Linked DNA regions of Homo sapiens: region 2 is reported to be linked to region 1. Evidence: microRNA targets listed by miRTarBase, many of them from high-throughput screens and not tested one by one. Region 1 holds a microRNA gene; the other region holds the end of a gene's coding sequence.
Evidence for each region. Region 1 holds the annotated microRNA hsa-miR-4755-5p (UUUCCCUUCAGAGCCUGGCUUU, at 1,935-1,956, shown strand). A microRNA usually pairs through its seed, bases 2 to 8, with sites in the 3' UTR of a target mRNA and lowers its output. Matches are read on the target gene's strand: a 7mer-m8 pairs with bases 2 to 8, a 7mer-A1 pairs with bases 2 to 7 and ends in A, and an 8mer does both.

Region 1 (5,073 bases):
TGCTAATCTGCTGACCTTGGAAAATGTGTCTTTGTTGAATACAGAGCAGTAGTACCTGGGCTGGCCCTGTGTGACTTAGAGCGGACAGTATGGGAGGTGGAGAACTGGGTGCATGGGAGCCATTAGATCAAGAATTGGAAATTCCTCACAAATAAAAGGTTTCTGGGGTAGGAGCAGGGGGCAGTGTTGATGGTGACTCTGCTTGGATTATCTTCTAGGGATGGAGGATTGCCAGCTCCATTGAATGGAAGGACTGGTGATGCGCAGCCACTCTTGCATGTGCCCGGGCAAAAGACAGTGTGTTGGTGGCAAATGCCTAATGTGTCTATGGCTGACCATGGGCCATCTCTGCCATTCAAGACATCAGCTCCTGGCAGAGTTGTATTGGTTTGATAGAGCTTTAGTCTTCGGAGTCGCACAGACCTGAGTTCAAATCCTTCTCTGCCATTTACTGTAATAATTGTGTTCCTTAGGCTGATCCTTTAGCTCTCAGATCCTCTTTTTCCTTTTCTCTAAAATGATGTGGTTGATATCTGCTTTTGAGGTTGTGAGGATTTAAAATAACAGGTAAATAGGTGCCACACAGTACCAGATACTTAGTTGGGTGAGTAGCCTGGTGATCTGTGGCTGTTAGCTCTTTGAAGGCCAGTATCCCTAGGAGATAGCAGCAACGTCAGCACTGCTCTGATTCCCTGACCAACCCCCAACCCCACCTTTGCCCTCAGAAATACCCTGGACCCTTGTTTCCTTCCTCAAGTTCAGACCCCAGAAATGTTGGGCAAGAAGGAGCCTCCAGGCCAGGCTTTATTGTGCCAGATGTTATATCTGAGTAAGCAGGATTGTTACACAGCAGAGATACAGGAGCAGAGCAGGTAGCTCAGGCAGCTGCTGATGAACAAAAGGCTTCTTCTCTCTGTTCCCAATAAATTGGTCCTTGGGGATCCTAGCTTTGAAATTCTAATTGACACAGGAAGGAAAAGATTCATTAGGCTCTGGACTCGTTAAAATGCTCTGCTGCTCACCTACGATTTATTCTTGGCACTTCATCAAGAGGAATTAAGTAAACCAATGGGCTGGGAGGCTCCTGACAGCAGAGTCGTGTGTCTCTCGTGCTCCTGGGGGGATGAGAGTGTTGGGTCTCCTATGCTATGGAGCATATAGCTGGCTTTGGAATCTCCTCATCCCTAGGACTTCACATGAGTCTAAGTCTCATATGCTTTTAACAATGGAGGGACCTTCTGAGATCATACTGTGTAACTCATTTATAGATGGTCCAAAGAAGAACTGGGACTTGCTCAAGATCACGAAACGCATTAGTAGTGGAGTTAGAATTAGAATCAGTCAGGCTGCATGACTTCCAGGTCAAGAATATTTTCTCTGCGGCCGGGCGTGGTGGCTCACGCCTGTAATCCCAGCACTTTGGGAGGCTGAGGCAGGTGGATCACGAGGTCAGGAGATCAAGACCATCCTGGCTAACACGGTGAAACTCCATCTCCACTAAAAATACAAAAAATTAGCCGGGCGTGGTGGCGGGCGCCTGTAGTCCCAGCTACTCGGGAAGCTGAGGCAGGAGAATGGCGTGAACCCTGGAGGCAGAGCTTGCAGTGAGCCGAGATCGCACCACTGCACTCTAGCCTGGGAGACAGCGAGACTCCGTCTCAAAAAAAAAAAAAAAAAATTTTCTCTGCATCACCTTTGGATTTCTACACCCAGTGTTTCATTCATTCAGCCTTCAACAGATACTTTTAACACATTCTGTGTGCCAGGACTCTGTGATAAACAAAACAGCCATGGAGGAAAGTAAATACCTGACCCAGTATTAGGAGAGATTAGAAAGGCCTCCAAGTCTGAGAGATGGATAGGAATTAGCTCAGCAAGGAGAGATGAGGAAGGTTATGGCTGAGGAACTGGCATCTATGAAAGCCAGATTCAGCTTTCCCTTCAGAGCCTGGCTTTGGCATCTATGAAAGCCAGGCTCTGAAGGGAAAGTTGAATCTTGCTAGAGTGGAGAATTGAGGAAGAGATGAGATGTTAAGGCAAGCCGAGTCTATGAGGTTTGGGCCACTGTATGGTTGTAAAGAACCCTGGATCTGGGATTAGGAGTCCTGAGTTCTAGATATGTTTCTGCTACCAATATGTTAGTCATCATTCTAGTAACACTTCACATCTTTTAGGTGTGCCATGATGGGCACTGGGGTACAAAAATGTGTAAGATGTATGTAGTCCCCTCCCTCAGAGATCTGTCAGTTTAATGAGGCAAGCAGGCTAATTAAGAACCCCTGTAGTAAAGGAACAGTTACCTCTGCTGTAAGAAGTCAGAATTGAGCTGTGTGTTACTTTAAGCACTTTCTCTGGGCTTTGATGATCTCACCTGTCAAATGGTAAATAACCACTGTCCTATGTAGCTGGTAAACTGATGAGAAGACAGACAACTTTGTAATGATTGGCGTTTGTTTGGCATTTTGTGGATTTCAAAACACTTTTGACATCATTAATTCATTGAACCTTAACTGCAATCTTATGACTTAGGAAATTTCCCCACAATGTACAGATGAGGAAACTGAGAGAGGTTGAGGCTTGTTCATAGTTTCACAGCTTTTGATTAACAAAAGTTAGGATTATAAATCCAAATCCCGTGCTCTTATTTTGAAAAGTATAAAGATGGCAACCTTTCTTTCTATCCCCTACTTAGTGGCAAATTATCCCCTTCCCCTTTTCACAGTCACCAGAAATGCAGAGAATGTCTGCTGTGTTTGAAAAGCAGATCTAAGCTGACTGGGGAGAAAGAAAGGAGCTTATTTCAGGTCTTCTTCAGGCTGGACTCTAAACTTTTAAGATCATGTGCGCCCGTGCTCCCATCAGCTCCTGCTGTTCCATCTCATGCCATTTACAGAGTGCCATTTACTGAGCCACTACTTCATTGGCTACTCATAGCAACTTGTGGGGTAGACAAAGTGCACTTTACAGATGGGCAAACTGAGGTCCAGAGTCCCTGAATTGTACATGTCAGAACCAGGATTGAATCTAGAAGTCTTGGGCTCCTGACACCAAACAGGTGCTCTTAACTTGCAGAATGTAGGTTCCTTTGATTCAGTTCGGTTCAAACAATTCTTGAATATAACCCATGTGCCAGAGACTTTGCTATGCAAGAGAGCCTCTAGTTAGGCTCAAACCGTCTTGGTCTAGTGCCTTACTTAAGAACAGGGACTTGTATTATTTACTTCTCTGTCCCCAGGCAGGACCTTGATCCAAAAATGCTTTGCTGTTGTTTTTGGCCTTAATCTGCCAGAAACTAGAGGGAGCAGATGGCCACAGCAATGTGGGTTATGAGGATGTGATATCAGGCAGGGTTGAAGGATGAATTGAGAGCCCTGCACCCAACTACTTCTGTGTCTGTGCCTAGGCCCTTGTCAGGGTAGTCTCTATCTGAGAGTGTAGCTGGTCAGCCTGGTCCCATTTCTCATTTCCAGTCACCTCCCCCTCTTGCCATCCCATATAATGGGGTTAGTCTCCTGGACAGATCTCATACAGAGGCTGCTGGGATCTGCTGTCCAAATGACCCTTTGGACCTATTTCCCAGCCATGTTCCAAGATGATGGTGAGGAGTCTAGCCCCACAGCCAGTATGCTATCTCTATTCAGATAACTCCCAGCTCACAGGCCTCCCACCAGGCTCTCACCCACTCTGATGTTTTCACTCCTGACTCCTAAGAAGCAGATTGGCAATTTAGTGTGAGTCTGTCAGACAGCCTAGAGAGTAATCAATACTGAGAGAAATGGACATATTTCCTGTTTATTCAAAATCCTGATGAAAATTTTAAGGAGCACTATTTGGGAAGGGATGACTGGGAACCTTGCAAGAACAAACAGCTTAAAATTCATGAACAGAAATAGCAACGTTTATTCATGATGTTTCAAATGCCCCTAATATTCACATCTTTATATATTACAGACCCCTTTCATACGTGTTACTGCTTTTGAACCTTAGAGCAACTCTGTGAGGGAAGCAGTGTAAGGATTACTATTCCCACTTGACAGTTGAGGAAACTAAGGCCCAGGAAGCTTTAAAGAGAGTTAGGGACCATCTGATAGTCATGGTGGCAGAGCCCAAAACAGAACCAAGATTTGGAAAATGAGTACTCCTGGGTTTGAAATCTGGTGCTCGCCACTTTCTAGTTGTGTGACCTTTGGCAAGTTACTTGGCCTCTCTGAGCTCAGTTTCCTTCTCTGTAATACGAGGATAACAATGTCTACTCCTTATGGTTGTGTATGGATTTAATGATATAATTAATGGAAAATGCTAGCACAGTACAGAACATGTGTTAGGAGCTTAGTAACTGCAGGTATCCTATCTCATAGGATAGCGTTTTCAGTATATTGCACTCTGAGTCTTTGAAATTTGATACTTTTTTTTTGTTTTTGAGACAGAGTCTCGCTCTGTTGCCCAGGCTGGAGTGCAGTGGCGTGATCTCCGCTCACTGCAAGCTCCGCCCCCTGGGTTCATGCCATTCTCCTGCCTCAGCCTCCCCAGTAGCTGGGGCTACAGGCGCCTGCCACCACACCTGGCTAATTTTTTTTGTTGTTGTTGTTGTTTAGTAGAGACGGGTTTTCACCGTGTTTGCCAGGATGGTCTCCATCTCCTGACCTCGTGATCCAGGTGCCTTGGCCTCCCAAAGTGCTGGGATTACAGGCGTGAGCCACTGCGCCCAGCCTGATACTTTCACTACAGTAAAATGGACTACATATAATAAATTCTCATTAACCAGAGTATCATTTAAATGCCTCACTAGGTTAAGAGAACTGGATAAGAAGGGAAGCAGGGTGCTCCAGGCACTGGCTAAGTACTCCTGATGCAAATCACAGTAGGTTAGAGCTGACAGGGACCCTAGAGATCTGTCCCAGTGTGTCTTCCTCAAATTGTGTCTTCCTCAGAAGAGATGTTAATAATTTGGGAAACATCAGATTGAATAATGCTAATAAGTAAATTTCTTTACCGCTGCCTTTGCAGACCCTTATTGTGTGTGTCTCTTGGGAACGAGTTGAGAGTGCAATATGCCAAATTTCCTCTTCTTAT
Region 2 (5,073 bases), not on the chromosome of region 1:
CTGCATCGCCGTGGACCGCTACCTGGCCATTGTCCACGCCGTCCATGCCTACCGCCACCGCCGCCTCCTCTCCATCCACATCACCTGTGGGACCATCTGGCTGGTGGGCTTCCTCCTTGCCTTGCCAGAGATTCTCTTCGCCAAAGTCAGCCAAGGCCATCACAACAACTCCCTGCCACGTTGCACCTTCTCCCAAGAGAACCAAGCAGAAACGCATGCCTGGTTCACCTCCCGATTCCTCTACCATGTGGCGGGATTCCTGCTGCCCATGCTGGTGATGGGCTGGTGCTACGTGGGGGTAGTGCACAGGTTGCGCCAGGCCCAGCGGCGCCCTCAGCGGCAGAAGGCAGTCAGGGTGGCCATCCTGGTGACAAGCATCTTCTTCCTCTGCTGGTCACCCTACCACATCGTCATCTTCCTGGACACCCTGGCGAGGCTGAAGGCCGTGGACAATACCTGCAAGCTGAATGGCTCTCTCCCCGTGGCCATCACCATGTGTGAGTTCCTGGGCCTGGCCCACTGCTGCCTCAACCCCATGCTCTACACTTTCGCCGGCGTGAAGTTCCGCAGTGACCTGTCGCGGCTCCTGACGAAGCTGGGCTGTACCGGCCCTGCCTCCCTGTGCCAGCTCTTCCCTAGCTGGCGCAGGAGCAGTCTCTCTGAGTCAGAGAATGCCACCTCTCTCACCACGTTCTAGGTCCCAGTGTCCCCTTTTATTGCTGCTTTTCCTTGGGGCAGGCAGTGATGCTGGATGCTCCTTCCAACAGGAGCTGGGATCCTAAGGGCTCACCGTGGCTAAGAGTGTCCTAGGAGTATCCTCATTTGGGGTAGCTAGAGGAACCAACCCCCATTTCTAGAACATCCCTGCCAGCTCTTCTGCCGGCCCTGGGGCTAGGCTGGAGCCCAGGGAGCGGAAAGCAGCTCAAAGGCACAGTGAAGGCTGTCCTTACCCATCTGCACCCCCCTGGGCTGAGAGAACCTCACGCACCTCCCATCCTAATCATCCAATGCTCAAGAAACAACTTCTACTTCTGCCCTTGCCAACGGAGAGCGCCTGCCCCTCCCAGAACACACTCCATCAGCTTAGGGGCTGCTGACCTCCACAGCTTCCCCTCTCTCCTCCTGCCCACCTGTCAAACAAAGCCAGAAGCTGAGCACCAGGGGATGAGTGGAGGTTAAGGCTGAGGAAAGGCCAGCTGGCAGCAGAGTGTGGCCTTCGGACAACTCAGTCCCTAAAAACACAGACATTCTGCCAGGCCCCCAAGCCTGCAGTCATCTTGACCAAGCAGGAAGCTCAGACTGGTTGAGTTCAGGTAGCTGCCCCTGGCTCTGACCGAAACAGCGCTGGGTCCACCCCATGTCACCGGATCCTGGGTGGTCTGCAGGCAGGGCTGACTCTAGGTGCCCTTGGAGGCCAGCCAGTGACCTGAGGAAGCGTGAAGGCCGAGAAGCAAGAAAGAAACCCGACAGAGGGAAGAAAAGAGCTTTCTTCCCGAACCCCAAGGAGGGAGATGGATCAATCAAACCCGGCGGTCCCCTCCGCCAGGCGAGATGGGGTGGGGTGGAGAACTCCTAGGGTGGCTGGGTCCAGGGGATGGGAGGTTGTGGGCATTGATGGGGAAGGAGGCTGGCTTGTCCCCTCCTCACTCCCTTCCCATAAGCTATAGACCCGAGGAAACTCAGAGTCGGAACGGAGAAAGGTGGACTGGAAGGGGCCCGTGGGAGTCATCTCAACCATCCCCTCCGTGGCATCACCTTAGGCAGGGAAGTGTAAGAAACACACTGAGGCAGGGAAGTCCCCAGGCCCCAGGAAGCCGTGCCCTGCCCCCGTGAGGATGTCACTCAGATGGAACCGCAGGAAGCTGCTCCGTGCTTGTTTGCTCACCTGGGGTGTGGGAGGCCCGTCCGGCAGTTCTGGGTGCTCCCTACCACCTCCCCAGCCTTTGATCAGGTGGGGAGTCAGGGACCCCTGCCCTTGTCCCACTCAAGCCAAGCAGCCAAGCTCCTTGGGAGGCCCCACTGGGGAAATAACAGCTGTGGCTCACGTGAGAGTGTCTTCACGGCAGGACAACGAGGAAGCCCTAAGACGTCCCTTTTTTCTCTGAGTATCTCCTCGCAAGCTGGGTAATCGATGGGGGAGTCTGAAGCAGATGCAAAGAGGCAAGAGGCTGGATTTTGAATTTTCTTTTTAATAAAAAGGCACCTATAAAACAGGTCAATACAGTACAGGCAGCACAGAGACCCCCGGAACAAGCCTAAAAATTGTTTCAAAATAAAAACCAAGAAGATGTCTTCACATATTGTATTTATATATTTATATTTATATATATATTTATATAATGGTACAAAATGGCTGGGGGTGTGGCCATGGATGGAGGGAAGAGTAGGCTGGCCTGTGGCGTGGGTGGGAGGAGAGGGGACGGAGAGGGCACTCGGCCCGCTGCAATCTGACCCCTCTCTCCTCAGGGCAGGAAACACAGAGTCAGACAGTTTGGGGGGGTCTTGGGCCAGGGGTGGAGGGCTCAAGGGCACAGGGCCCAGGCTGAGGCAGGGCGGGCAAAGCGCCTGGCAGGATGAAGGGCAAGTGGCCCCCCAAACACAGAGGCCCTGGCCATGGACCCTGGGAGGTGACCGGGGTGAGTCAGGGGCCTGTTGTCAGCCCCAGAGGAAGCGCTGGACCTGGCCGATGGTGGGCCGAGAGGACAGCACCAGGCTGGGAGAAGTGGGGCGAGTTCCCTTTGTATTACAGCTGCCAGTGCAAGACCAGGCCCTCCAGGCCAGGAAGGCTAGGGACGGGTCCTGGTAGAAGACACCCTGTCTAGAATGGCCCTTGGTCCTGGAGGTGGGGCGCAAAAGGCCTCAGCCAGGGAACTGCCCTGCCACCTCCCGAGGCAGGAAAGGAAGTGAGAAAAGGAGAAGTTTTTTTACTCCTGGGGCCAAAGTAGGGGGACAAACACCCAGTCGTATATGGCTTCAGCTCTGACCAAAGGCGGATAGGGAGCTCTCCTGGGTAGGAGCAGGGAGCCAAGGGGGAGGCAGTGGCTGTGCCTGGGTGGGCACAGACAGATCTGGTACATGGCCCTGAGCCCTGGGCAGAGGGACAACCTTGCCGGTGAGTGGGCAGGCAGAGAGGAGGCGGCAGGATGCTGTTTCCCCGATTCCATCCTCAGGGAGTGGAGACTGGAGGGGAGGTGCACTGACTCAGATGAACTGTTCTCCCCCTTCTTTGATAAGAAGTAGGTGGCAGCAGCCTCTGGAAAAGTCAGGGCCCTGGAGGTTACCTGGCCCAGGGCTACTACAGCCACAGGCCCCAGTGGCACCATGCCACCCCTTCCATGGCTCCACTCAAGGGGGCCACACAGCCACCGCCTCTTCCTCCTTTCCTTCATCCCAAACTGGGACAAAAGACTTCAAGTTCTGGCTAAGATGTAGCAGCAGCGGATGCCCGGGCATCCAAAGTGGAAAGCCAGGGCCCCGTGTCACCGGTGTGGGCAAACACACATGCACGTGCACACATGTTCTCCCTGAATCACTCAGCAGCAGACAGGCTGCCGCCCTGGGGGTCTCAGCCCTGCTAGGGCTCACCAGGTGGAAGCCTAGGTGGTCTGACCTCAGTTTAGGAGTGGGTCATTTACGTCATCTTACCATTTGGGGACGAGACAGGAATGGTATCCCTTAGGGACCCAGAGACACTGCAAACAGTGGGTGGCCATGTAGGGCTGCATGTCCCTGGGTCCAGGGGAATGGAGGGAGCAATAACTTGAAGAAGGGGGGAAGGGTTTCTTTTATCCTTTTTTTTTTGTGTGACTTCTATCAAAACACAGAAATACAGCACACGCACAAACCAGCACAAAAGCGCAGCGCTCTATTTACAGCTCCGGCTGGCACCTGCCCACCTGGCCAGCCGCCTGCAGGGAGGGGTGGGAGAGGGGTCAGCCACATCAGCAGGGAAAGGATACGAAGCAGGTAAAGACAGAAGGAAAATGGGCGGGTGCGGAGAAACCAAGAGGGAGGTGGAGCTCCAGCAATGCGGACACGAGGAGACAGGAGCAGAAGGGGCTGGGGGAGACCTGACCTGTCCTTCCTCTCTCCCCCCAGATTCCCATCCAGGACTCCAAAAGCATAGCTGAAGGGGGTGTGGCGGGTGCAGGGATGCACGGAAAGAGGTAAAATAGAGAGGCTCCATAGGAATTGGGAGGAGTGGGGGAGGGGCAGTCCTGGTGGCCGAAATGGAACCAACCCCAATGCAAAATCCCCCACCCCACACTGCCACTTCCCCCTAAGCTGCCAGCACATCTGGTTTCCACAAATGCCACTCCCTACACAAGCCCCCTCCCACCCCCTCCACCCCACCCCGCGACCCAGGCCATCCCAACATTGAGGGGAAGAACTTTGTTAAGGTTATCGTATTTGCAACATTGCCCCGGCTCCAGCCCTGGCAGCGACTTCTAGAAGGGCAGGTTGGCCATGCCGCCTGGTGCCGGGAGGTAGCCCATCTGGCTGTCCAGGGACACACTGCGCTGCCGAAGGGGGTGGGACACCATGAGGTTCTGCTGGGGCGGGGGGCCCATGAGGGAGCCCTGCGGGGAGAGCATGTGGGGCGGCTGGCTGTAGACCTCGCCCCCCACGCCCCGCTGCTTCATCAGCATGAAATTCTGCTGGGTCATGAGGCCTTGTGGAGGGGACATGACCCCCTGGTGCAGGCCATGGGGCACCATCCCCTGCTGTGGGGGCACGCCTGTCCTGCCCAGCAAGGACATCTGTCCAGGGTGGCACATGGACATGTTGAGCCCCCGCTGGACGCCCTGCTGGCCTGGGAGGTTGGGAGGCCGAGAGGGAGTCTGCTCCGCCATCATGTTCTGCAGGTTCATGAGATGCAGATTAGGGGGCTGAGCCTTGGGGGGCTGGTTCTCGCTCTTGGGGAAGTACTGGAGGGTGCTGCTTGGCTTCTCAGAGGGGATGATCCTCGACAAGTCGAACTCGGGGATCCCCGTTGGGGTGGGCCGGATCACCTCGCTCAGCTCGGGGTCGTTCAGCACTGATGCCACCCCAGGGAGCACACCCGGTGGGTAT

Region 2: miRTarBase lists BCL9L as a target of hsa-miR-4755-5p. Seed matches in the 3' UTR shown: 7mer-m8 at 2,733-2,739.

What each region holds. Positions count from the first base shown.
Region 1 is chr20:34,047,194-34,052,266 of GRCh38, forward strand. MIR4755 (microRNA 4755) reads left to right here and starts at 1,926; the gene lies at 1,926-1,997. All of the region lies in intron 2 of RALY (RALY heterogeneous nuclear ribonucleoprotein), which reads left to right.
Region 2 is chr11:118,893,967-118,899,039 of GRCh38, forward strand. BCL9L (BCL9 like) reads right to left here. Exons shown (of 10, transcript NM_001378213.1): 10 at 2,170-5,073. The coding sequence ends at 4,449. CXCR5 (C-X-C motif chemokine receptor 5) reads left to right here. Exons shown (of 2, transcript NM_001716.5): 2 at 1-3,821. The coding sequence ends at 697. Among named protein-coding and RNA genes, the nearest start is that of CXCR5, 13 kb to the left of the region's middle. RefSeq lists enhancers at 1,798-2,556, 4,176-4,683.